Linked DNA regions of Homo sapiens: region 1 is linked to region 2. A link means that fine-mapping ties the variant in region 2 to the expression of a gene that starts in the linked region. Tissue or cell type: whole blood. Region 2 holds a variant in brackets; the other region holds the start of a gene. All regions are shown on one strand. Distances are between the middles of the regions. Region 1 holds the start of GSAP (gamma-secretase activating protein). Region 2 overlaps GSAP (gamma-secretase activating protein).

Evidence for each region. PIP is the estimated chance that this variant, and not a neighbour inherited with it, causes the effect.
Region 1: GSAP starts here. The variant in region 2 is fine-mapped to the expression of GSAP in whole blood (INTERVAL, PIP above 0.99).

What each region holds. Positions count from the first base shown.
Region 1 is chr7:77,414,036-77,419,416 of GRCh38, reverse strand. It overlaps GSAP (gamma-secretase activating protein), which reads left to right and starts at 3,068. Exons shown (of 31, transcript NM_017439.4): 1 at 3,068-3,204. The coding sequence starts at 3,096. It overlaps LOC101927243 (a long non-coding RNA gene), which reads right to left and starts at 4,219. Exons shown (of 5, transcript NR_110073.1): 1 at 4,069-4,219. RefSeq lists silencers at 2,773-3,122, 3,343-3,552, 3,613-3,902.
Region 2 is chr7:77,387,446-77,392,826 of GRCh38, reverse strand. GSAP (gamma-secretase activating protein) reads left to right here. Exons shown (of 31, transcript NM_017439.4): 6 at 5,379-5,381. Among named protein-coding and RNA genes, the nearest start is that of GSAP, 26 kb to the left of the region's middle. RefSeq lists an enhancer at 1-284. The variant A/G (reference allele first, on the strand shown) is at 2,171.

The DNA.
Region 1 (5,381 bases), 27 kb before region 2:
AAGAATCATAATTTTGAAGATTCTGATTCTCTGCATTGCTTCACCTCTTTTCTTGCCTTGTGCTTGCATCTCTACTATAGTGTAAGCACCTTTATCTCCTCCCTTTAGCTGATTCTCTGTGGCTTGCTACTAAAACTTGTGACTCATGGCGTGGTTCAAACTTCTGGAATCAATATTTACCTCCATTTTAGATTTCTCCTCACATACCGACCTTTAGCTCTGGTATATCTTCAAAGCTAGCCATTTCATGCATTTCCTCACCTGGCCCTCTCTATGGTGGACAGTAAGGCAGCAATACAGAGGTGGAAAGCTCCTCACATTAAGTAGCAGAATGTTGCTATTCAAAATGTCATCTGTGGACCAGCAGCTTTGGCATGACCTGGAAACTCGTTAAAATGTAGACTCTTCAGCACCACCTCACCCTGCTGAATCAGAATCTACCTTTTATCAAGATCCTTAGGTGATTTGAATGCTCATTAAAGTTTGAAAATCCCTGATTTAAGATGCTTTTGGCACAAGTAACAGAAAACCCAACTCAAACTGGCTTGCATGATACGTAGAATGACTTTCAGGTGATCTAATCCAGAGGCCCTTAGGTTTTCAGGGCTTTGCAACAAACTCTTTTTGCTTATCTGAGCTGTTTCCTGTAAGCCTACTCCCTCAACATAACTTCATTTTATGTTAACAATACAAAATATAGAATGTGTTCTAATAAGTGTTCAAACACAAACCTATTATTATAGTGCTCTTTGGCCTGTGCCCTAAATTTTGAAATGATCACTCCTTAAAATTGAAACCCTTGGTTGCAAGTAAAATAAAAGTCTGACTGAATATCATTTAAACAATAGGAAATTCAACATCTCTAATATCAGAAAGGGCAGAGGATGGCTCCAAAAATAATTTACCAAGGTTTCTCTTCTCTGCAGTTCTCTGGACTCTCCTGACTCCAATGACTCCATTTTCAGTGTGCTAGATGGCTGAAATTCCAGCAATCATATCTAGATCCCGAAATAGTTAAAGACTGAAAGGGACCATCTTTTCCCATGTCTCTTGTTTTAAGAATAGAGAAATCTGTCATAGCAGAGGTTTCCTTACAACTCAGTGGCCGGAATCGGGTATCATACTCTGACAGAGATCTCTAATTGCTTCTGAATATCTACTTTCCCCACCTTCTTCAGTAATACCGTCCTGATTTTTATCTGGGCACAGCAATGGCCAGGTATATTTCCTTGCCTCCCTTGAAAGCTACATTTGGCCATGTGACTAAATTCTGGTGAGTGAAACATACGTAGAAATGTTGTGTAGAACTTCCGGGAAGTATCCTTAAAAGAGAGGTAGCATCCTCTTTTTATTCCTCTTCTTCCATTCTGATTTCTGGAATGCAGACGTGAAGGCTGAAGCTTCTGCAGCCCTCTTTGATCATGAGGACAAGGGTACACTCAGGATCAGGTGGAGCAAAGAACTGGAAGGAGCCTGGGTCCCTGATAAATTCAGGAACCTGCCCTAAGAGCTTTATTCTGCCTACGTCCAGCTAGGTGACAGAATAAAACTTGTGTGTTTAATTTACTGTTAATCTGAGTTCTTATTAACTTCTGGAGAATCTAATCCTAACTGATACACATGCCTTCATATAGCACCCTCATGATTTTGGCCACATCTTTCTATCATTATCTTATTGTTTCTCACCTTCTTTACATTGGCTTTTTCACTTAATTTGAAGAGAATTTTTTATATCATCACTGCTTGACTATAAAATCAGTCCTGCCTGGCAAAAATAGAAGTTAACTGCAAAAATAAAAACAATGGAAATGTACTGACTTTAAAAAATTGGCCAACAGTGTTTCTGTATGACAAAGGCAACAAGCTTATTTGATATGAAATAGTTGCATTAGCTCCTTGGGGGCTCCAGTGGCCTTCCTTTTATTCACTGATAATATTAGCAGCTTCATTAGGCATTTATCTTAAATTTGCATGCACTTCCCGGGTGGGAGGACTTTCCTCTGTATATGGTGGTGAGTAATGGAGTTCTACCTGAAATCATCCATTACCTCAGTTGGAGAAACATGTCTCTAGGAGGGAAAAAAATTCAAGACTTTCTTTTACATTTGGTTGGAGTAGTTTTCAAACTTAGTAAGCCTAAGAATCACCCGAGGCTCTGGGTAAAATGCACGTTTCTGGTCTTGTCCAGGTGTAGAGATCAGGAGTCTGCATTGTAAAATAGTGCCCCAGATGACGTCAATACAAGTAGTTTTCAGACCTTAATTTCGGAAGCATGTGAAAAAGCATTCTTTATTACTGTATTCACTCATTCTTCAGTAATTGTCGAGCACCTTCCAGAGTGCTCTGTTAGACCCTGGTGGGAGGCAGAGGGTTTGCGTGGAGACTTAAGATTCAGTTTTCATGTCTCAAGGCATCAAATGAGATGTACTAGAGTTAAAAGGCAAAAAGGACGCTGTTTGTATCAAGCGCATTAACCCCTTTTAGCGTTTCTCTTACAATGGGATCACCTTCGTCATACGCTCCCAGTTGCTACTCATTACCTTAATAACACTAATAAAGCACCACCACCTCGAAGCTGGGGCGAATAGGCCCAAGAGACGGCCTACTTCTGTGGTGACCCTGAACTGCTCCAGAGGACCCAGCTCTCTCAAGCCAAGTGGTTTCCACACTTTGCTGCACAGTGGAGGCACTTGTAGAATAAAGAAAATAGGCCGACCCTCCAGGTTTGGAAGCCACTGGGCTAGCGGCCTCGCCAAGGCCCTGAAGCGCCCACGTCTTTGCGCCCTCTATCCTCAGCCCCGAAGGTGCGCGCGGAGGCCTCCCGCCCCGGCGGGCCTGGTCCTGGCGCCTGGTCCACCCCGCCCCACCGCTACCCGCCGTGCCCGGCTCCGGCTCCGGCTCAGGTGCGGGCCGCCGGCCGGGAGGAGCTGGTGCCGGAGCTTCTCAGGCCAGGGCGCTGCAGAACCGAAAGCAGCAGGGGGCGGGGGAGAGGAAAGAGGGGGCGGGAGCGGGGACGCGAGGGCGAGGCGGCCACGCGGGGCCGGGAATGCCCGCGGTGCGGGGCCCCAGAGCCGCCCGGTGGTCGTGTCCGGGCGATGGCTCTTCGCCTGGTCGCCGACTTCGACCTCGGGAAGGACGTGCTCCCGTGGTTGCGGGCGCAGCGGGCAGTGTCGGAGGCCAGCGGGGCCGGAAGCGGCGGCGCAGGTGCGGGAGGCGCGCTGCGGAGAGGGGTGGGGGCGGGGAGTGGGAGTCCCTCATACCCCCCGGACTCCGACCCGGTGGGGAGCAACCCGGGGCGTCGCCGCCCTGAGAAGGCTGGTGCGAGGGCGTCGCTCCCCTCCTCAGAGGGCTGTTTTGGCTTTGCCACCCACACCCAGCCACGGCGGAAGGTCTGGGGGCAGAGCCCGGGCCAGGTCGCCGTGGGGCCTGAGGCGCCTGGCTCGCTGCCGGCCCGCGGAAATTCGCCCTTGGCAGAGGGGCCGGGCCGCTGGCGGTTCCCTCAGCATCACCTCACGGCGAGGGCAGAGGGTCGTGCTCAGCTCAGCGGCCGCATCCCACCTCCCGGGGGGTTCATCGGCAGCGCAGGGGCTTTGCCAAGACAGGAGTGCTCCTGGAAGCTTCACGTTTTGAGAAAGAATCCGTGACCACCAAGCAAACCACCCTATACCTAACGGTGGAACAGTTTGTCCCCACATTTGCGAGACGTGTTTATGTGTCTGTTGAACCGTGTCCGTGGCTCAGGGGACATGGGCCTCGGCGGTGAGGCGCAAGAGGGCAGGGGCCGCCTCCAGGCTGCGCGCGGCGGGGCGAGAGCCCCCAGCCGCCCCCGAGCTCCGCACCTGTGCAGGCTGGGGCTGCGCGCGAGATGCTCGGCTCCCGGCCCTGCCACTCCGGGCTTTTTGATGATTTGGTAAGGGAGTGAAAGTGACTTTTGAGCCTTCCCAGCACTGATCTGTTTTAAAGAAGGGGAACTTTGTGATTTCTTACAAAGTTTTAAAAGTCTTCTATAAATATTGGAGCTTCAGAGCTTAAATGCAGCTTCAAAGCAATGATGCCTGTAGGTCTCACCTTGTGTGTAGGGCGCTGTCCACTTCAGTGAATTTGGAAGTGGGTATTAAATGACCCACATCTACAACTCCTTTCCCTTAAACGCTGGTGAAAGTTTTCTTGATGTGAGTTATATATCAAGTTGCTATCTTGTATCTTCACACTCTCCTATGACTATAGCGAAATTATTTGTAGGTTTCCTTGGCTTGGAATATTATTAGCTCCAAATAAGGAGTTATATGTTTGTGTAGCGTATGCATTGAGTTTGCATTAGTGTCATGCTTAGTAAGGCTTTACTTTTTTTCGAGGTGGAGAGGGTGGTCAAGGAAGAATTTTATACAAAAATTAGCTGGGCGTGGTGACACGCTCCTGTAATCCCAGCTACTCGGGAGGCTGAGGCAGGAGAATCGCTTGAACCTGGGAGGCAGAGGTTGCAGTGAGCCGAGATCTCGCCACTGCACTCCAGCCTGGGCAACAGAGTAAGTCTCCGTCTCAAAAAAAAAAAAAAAAAAAAAAAAAAAAAAAGTCGCCCACATGTCTGAAAAGTTTTTGAAGGCTTAACTTTTTGAAATACAACAGGCAGCTCTGTCTTCTACTACCAAGTACTCCTTTTTCTGGACTCCCACTTTATTTTGCTAAATGGCAGGTGTCTGCAAATGAGAAGTTAGATGAGTGTGAAATGCCACAGTCTTATGTTTCCGTAATGTGTGTCGTGCTTGAAAAGCTGTGTGTGACCCACTGGGACCTGGCTTCCTTGTATCTTTCGCTCATCTCTGAAGAAATATAAACTTGTGTATTGACCTTCCACTAAACAACAGATAGCTCTAGGTCCTCAGAAGGTACTTTCTGGAAATACTAGCTTTTCTGATACTGGTAGTATTTTGCTCTTTCAGAGCAAATATCTTGGTAAGATATTAGCCCTGTTATACTAAGAGAATTATCACCTCTGATAATCACCAGTGGGTGGTAGCTCAAAAATACCCCCACACAAATTAATTCCTGTTCTGTAATTTATAGCAGTGGCAGGGAAATCTGGGATTCTGTCTCATTTCTAGCACAGCAGTTACAACACACATTTGTGGAAATCATTATCCTTTCAAAGTTCTGGCTTTTCAAATGTAAATTATGAATTACTATACCATTGTAATGCCTCCTCTATGCATACTTGCTTTCTGAATTTGAAGCCTTAATGTTTTTACATCAACAAATACAATTGAAGTTTTCTTAGAGGTGCTAAGTAATTCTCATGAGATATGTATGATATATTCCTGGCAAAACAGAGAGCTGGGCTGAGTCAGCCATGGAAATTCTGTGCCTGTAAGCATTTTGGTCAA
Region 2 (5,381 bases):
TGTCACAGATGCTCTGTGAAGCTGTGATTCGGTTCAAGAGCTTGAATAACCAGAGCTCCTTCAGAACCAGGCCATATTGAACTCTCCCATCCTTGTCACCATTTCACAGCATGTGCCTGGATCACACCATGGTCTTTTGCTCACCTCCGTTCTCCTCATGTCATGTCTATCCCTCTGCCTGATCCTGCTGTCTCTCCTTGTGGTATCCAGATATTGCCTGGTCTTGTCTTCCCCTTCAGTGATGGTCTCCCAGTCTCCACTGATAATCTTTTCTTTTTTGAGACAGTGCCTTGCTCTGTCACCCAGGCTGGAGTGCAGTGGTGTGATCTCAGCTCACTGCAACCTCCAACTTCCGGGTTCAAGCGATACTCCTGCCTCAGTTTCCCGAGTAGCTGGGATTACAAGTGTGCGCCACCACGCCTGGCTAATTTTTTGTGTTATTAGCAGAGAGGGGATTAGTCATGTTGCCCAGGCTGGTCTTGAACTCCTGAGCTCAGGGAATCCGCCCACCTCAGCCACCCAATATGTTAGGATTACAGGCATGAGCCACTGTGTCCAGTCTCCACTGATATCTTGATTCTCAAAATTCTTTTTTTTTTTTTCCTGAGATGGAGTCTTGCTCTGTCACCCAGGCTGGAGTGCAATGGTGTGGTCTCGGCTCACTGTAACCTCCGCCTCCCAGGTTCAGATTCTCCTGCCTCAGCCTCCTGAGTAGCCAGCACCGCAGGCATCCACCACCACTTCCGGCTAATTTTTGTATTTTTAGTAGAGACGGGGTTTCCCCGTGTTGGCCAGGCTGGTCTCGAACTCCTGACCTCAGGTGATCCACCCGCCTTGGCTTCCCAAAGTGCTGGGATTACAGGTGTGAGCCACCACTCCCGGCCATCAAAATTCTTAATTTAGCACCTCATAGAATAATGGGATTTTATGGCTGAAAGGGATTGTAGAAGTAATCTGGTTCTTTGGTCTTTCATTTTATTCTGATTATTTTTGAGACAGGGTCTTGCTCTGTTGCCCAAGCTGGGGTGCACTGACATTCTTATGGCTCACTATAGCCTCGACCTCCCTGGCCCAGGTGATCTTCCCACCTCAACCTTCTGAGTAACTGGGACTATAGGCACACACCACCATGTCCAGCTTGTTCTTAATATTTTTTTCATTTTTTTGTAGAGATGGGGTTTCACTATGTTGCCCAGGCTGGTCTCAAATTCCTGGCCTCAAATGATCTTCCTGCCTTGGCCTCCAAAAGTGTTGGGATTACAGGCGTGAGCACCTTGCCCTGCATGTTTTATTATGTTTAATAATGAGGCATTGAGGCCTAGGAAAGCTTGGTGATTTGCTGTGAAGTAAATACCAGGATAATGGCAGAACTGAAACTAGAACTGATGTCTCTAGAATCTTAATTCACGATGCTTCCTTTTTCACTGTGAAAGCACATGGTATGTTATTGAGAGAAATTACTATTTGCAAAGGTTGGCTCTTATTATGCTAGTAGTATTAGTCAAATGTCTGGGTTGTACTTGAGAAGGGAAAAATTAGTGTAGAAAGGTGTTTTCTGCCTTCAAAGATCTTCCCATTTTAAAGGTAAGAAAATCTTGCTGATAGCTGGCTGTCTCCTTTGGGTACAAATTCCTGCTTAAAAAAAAAAGCCAAATATATGGTTATTCTTTTTCTTTTTCTTTTTTTTTTTTTTTTTTTTTTGAGACGGAGCCTCATCTGTTGCCCACGCTGGAGTGCAGTGGTGTGATCTCAGCTCACTGCAACCTCTGCTTCCTGGGTTCAAGTGATTGTCCTGCCTCAGCCTCCCGAGTAGCTACAGATGAGTGCCACCACACCCGGCTAATTTTTTTTTTTTTTTTTTTTTTTTTTTTTTTTTTTTTAGACGGAGTCTCGCTCTGTCACCAGGCTGGAGTGCAGTGGCGCAACCTTGGCTCACTGCAACTTCCGCCTCCTGGTTTCAAGCGAGTCTCCTGCCTTAGCCTCCCGGGTAGCTGGGACTACAGGCGTGTGCCACCATGCCCAGCTATTTTTTTTTTGTAATTGATTTGTATTTTTTTATTTTTTATTTTTATTATTATACTTCAAGTTTTAGGGTACATGTGCACAACGTGCAGGTTTGTTACATATGTATACATGTGCCACGATGGTGTGCTGCACCCATTAACTCGTC[A/G]TTTAGCTTAGGTATATACCAATGGAACAGAACAGAGCCCTCAGATATAATGCTGCATATCTACAACTATCTGATCTTTGACAAACCTGACAAAAAGAAGAAATGGGTAAAGGATTCCCTATTTAATAAATGGTGCTGGGAAAACTGGCTGGCCATATGTAGAAAGCTGAAACTGGATCCCTTCCTTACACCTTATACAAAAATTAATTCAAGATGGATTAAAGACTTAAATGTAAGACCTAAAACCATAAAAACCCTAGAAGAAAACCTAGGCAATACCATTCAGGACATAGGCATGGGCAAGGACTTCATGTCTAAAACACCAAAAGCAATGGCAACAAAAGCCAAAATTGACAAATGGGATCTAATTAAACTAAAGAGCTTCTGCACAGCAAAAGAAACCACCATCAGAGTGAACAGGCAACCTACAGAATGGGAGAAAATTTTCGCAACCTACTCATCTGACAAAGGGCTAATATCCAGAATCTACAATGAACTCAAACAAATTTACAAGAGAAAACAAACAACCCCATCAAAAAGTGGGCGAAGGATATGAACAGACACTTTCTCAAAAGAAGACATTTATTCAGCCAAAAAACACATGAAAAAATGCTCATGATCACTGGCCATCAGAGACATGCAAATCAAAACCACAATGAGATACTATCTCACACCAGTTAGAATGGCAATCATTAAAAAGTCAGGAAACAACAGGTGCTGGAGAGGATGTGGAGAAATAGGAACACTTTCACACTGTTGGTGGGACTGTAAACTAGTTCAACCATTGTGGAAGACAGTGTGGTGATTCCTCAAGGATCTAGAACTAGAAATACCATTTGACCCAGCCATCCCATTACTGGGTATATACCCAAAGGATTATAAATCATGCTGCTATAAAGACACATGCACACATACATTTATTGTGGCACTATTCACAATAGCAAAGACTTGGAACCAACCCAAATGTCCAACAATGATAGACTGGATTAAGAAAATGTGGCACATATACACCATGGAATACTATGCAGCCATAAAAAATGATGAGTTCATGTCCTTTGTAGGGACATGGATGAAGCTGGAAACCATCATTCTCAGCAAACTATCCCAAGGACAAAAAACCAAACACCGCGTGTTCTCACTCATAGGTGGGAATCGAACAATGAGAACACATGGACATAGGAAGGGGAACATTACACATCGGGGACTGTTGGGTGGGGAGGGGGGGAGGGATAGCGTTGGGAGATATACCTAATGCTAAATGACGCGTTTTTTTTTTTATTTTTGTAGAGACGGCATTTCACTATGTTAACCAGGATGGAAACAAAAAACAAAACAAAACAAACAAACAAAAAATATATATATATATACACACACACATACTTTTAGGTCAAAAAAATATATATATATACACACACACATACATACACACACGCATACTTTTAGGTCAAAAAAATGTCAGTTCGTGCTATTTAATATACTAATTTAGTCATACACATTTAAGATAACAATAAGAAAAATTCATTTTCCCCCCCACATACTCACCTCTCAACAGAGCATTTCTATTCTATTTTTCTTCACAAATATCTTTGACACCAATGTCTTTCTTATTCCTGGAGCCATTTTTTGAGTCATCAAGTAGATTCCCAAAGTAACTCATCCATACCCTTGGTTGTAAGATCCTGTCACTAGGATTTTCATCCTAAGCCACAAGCACCCATTTACCAAACATTGGATTTCCATTTGTTCTGTAGTATGTATATTATATGATTCAATATAATAACTCACTTACTGTCTTTTTCAAGTAATATTTAAAAGGCATGTTTATAGATAGATCCAGACCTTCCAGTTGTTAGGACATAGCTCAGAAATTGTTTTACGTTCTTTGCTTTTTTCAAAAAATAAAGCAGTGCTCTCAGGTTGCTTTCTTAAATATTGAAAACTAACACTGATTAAATTCCACGCTTCTGTGCCATCCCCAAATTTTGTATATTATTTTTCACAGTGAAGTCACTGAGAGACACTGGATCATATTAGAGTCTCAATAAAAGCTCAAATATAAGGCCAGTCCTTCTTTTCTACGGTGTAATCTTGGGGGAAGGGGAACCTTGACCTAAATTTAGATATCTTTGGTAACTCCATGCGGGGAAGCCTGTGTCCATGGACTTCCTCCTGATTGCTGTATTTTATGGCATTTGCTCAGATGTGACACTGAAGAAGTAAGTGGGTCATTATCAGTGCTATACCACTGTCCCTGAGGGAAACCCAGCCTGTGTCCTAATGATAGATACTGTCAGCCTTAACATGTTCATGTATCAGAAATCTTTTTATTTTCCTACACAAACAATATTTGCCATTGTGCTGCCGAATTGGAGTGACAGAGAATCGCACTGTGTTTGTTTAGACTTAAAAGCCTAGAGGGCTTGTGGAGCTATGCTAAAAATGGCATGGAGTGAGTACAAACAACTTCTTCACTCCGTGCACATTGATTTCTCCCTTGAGATCTTTTCTGTGTCTCTGTTGAATTTGTAGAAATGTCAAAGTCAAACTTTAAAGTCAAACTTTAAGAAAATCACCTTTTTTTCCCCCTGGTAGAATAGCTAATACAATAGTTAGCATATTTATATTTTCAGAAAGTTCAGACATGTCTGCTTTTGCAAATCATAGAATTGTGATAATTGGGAAAAATGATATCCATTAGAAACCCGTTAGGCCCTCTTATATGTTGCTGGTGAGAGTGCAAAGTAATATACAGTGATCTTTGAATTCAGAAGCCACTTGTGTTTTAAATGTGATGCTTTTCTGTAAATGCAGAATTCTTATAATCTGAAATTTGTCTCCCTTGTATCTACTGTTGTTTCCAGGGCTGTTCAAAGACTTCCCTTTTCACATTTGCATTTCTTGAGTATCCTGTGGTTTTCATAATAAAATGCAGCTTCTTCAGGGCTCCTGAGGGTGTGGAAGGCAGGTCCTTTGCTGGGCTGATTGCTCTTTTGGGGTCCTGGAGCCGCTACACATCCTAGAGAGTAGAACTGGGAACAGATTTACAGTTTCAGTCTCCTCACAGGACTCTAGGATGGTGGTAGAATTGTTTTATTAGTTTATAGTCACTGTAGTAGGATTTACCGGAAATTGTTCTTACTCCTTGCTTTGGAAAAAATAATGTGTGATATTACAATCTTCGTTACTAAAAGCCTTCTTTTCTCTGTAGGAT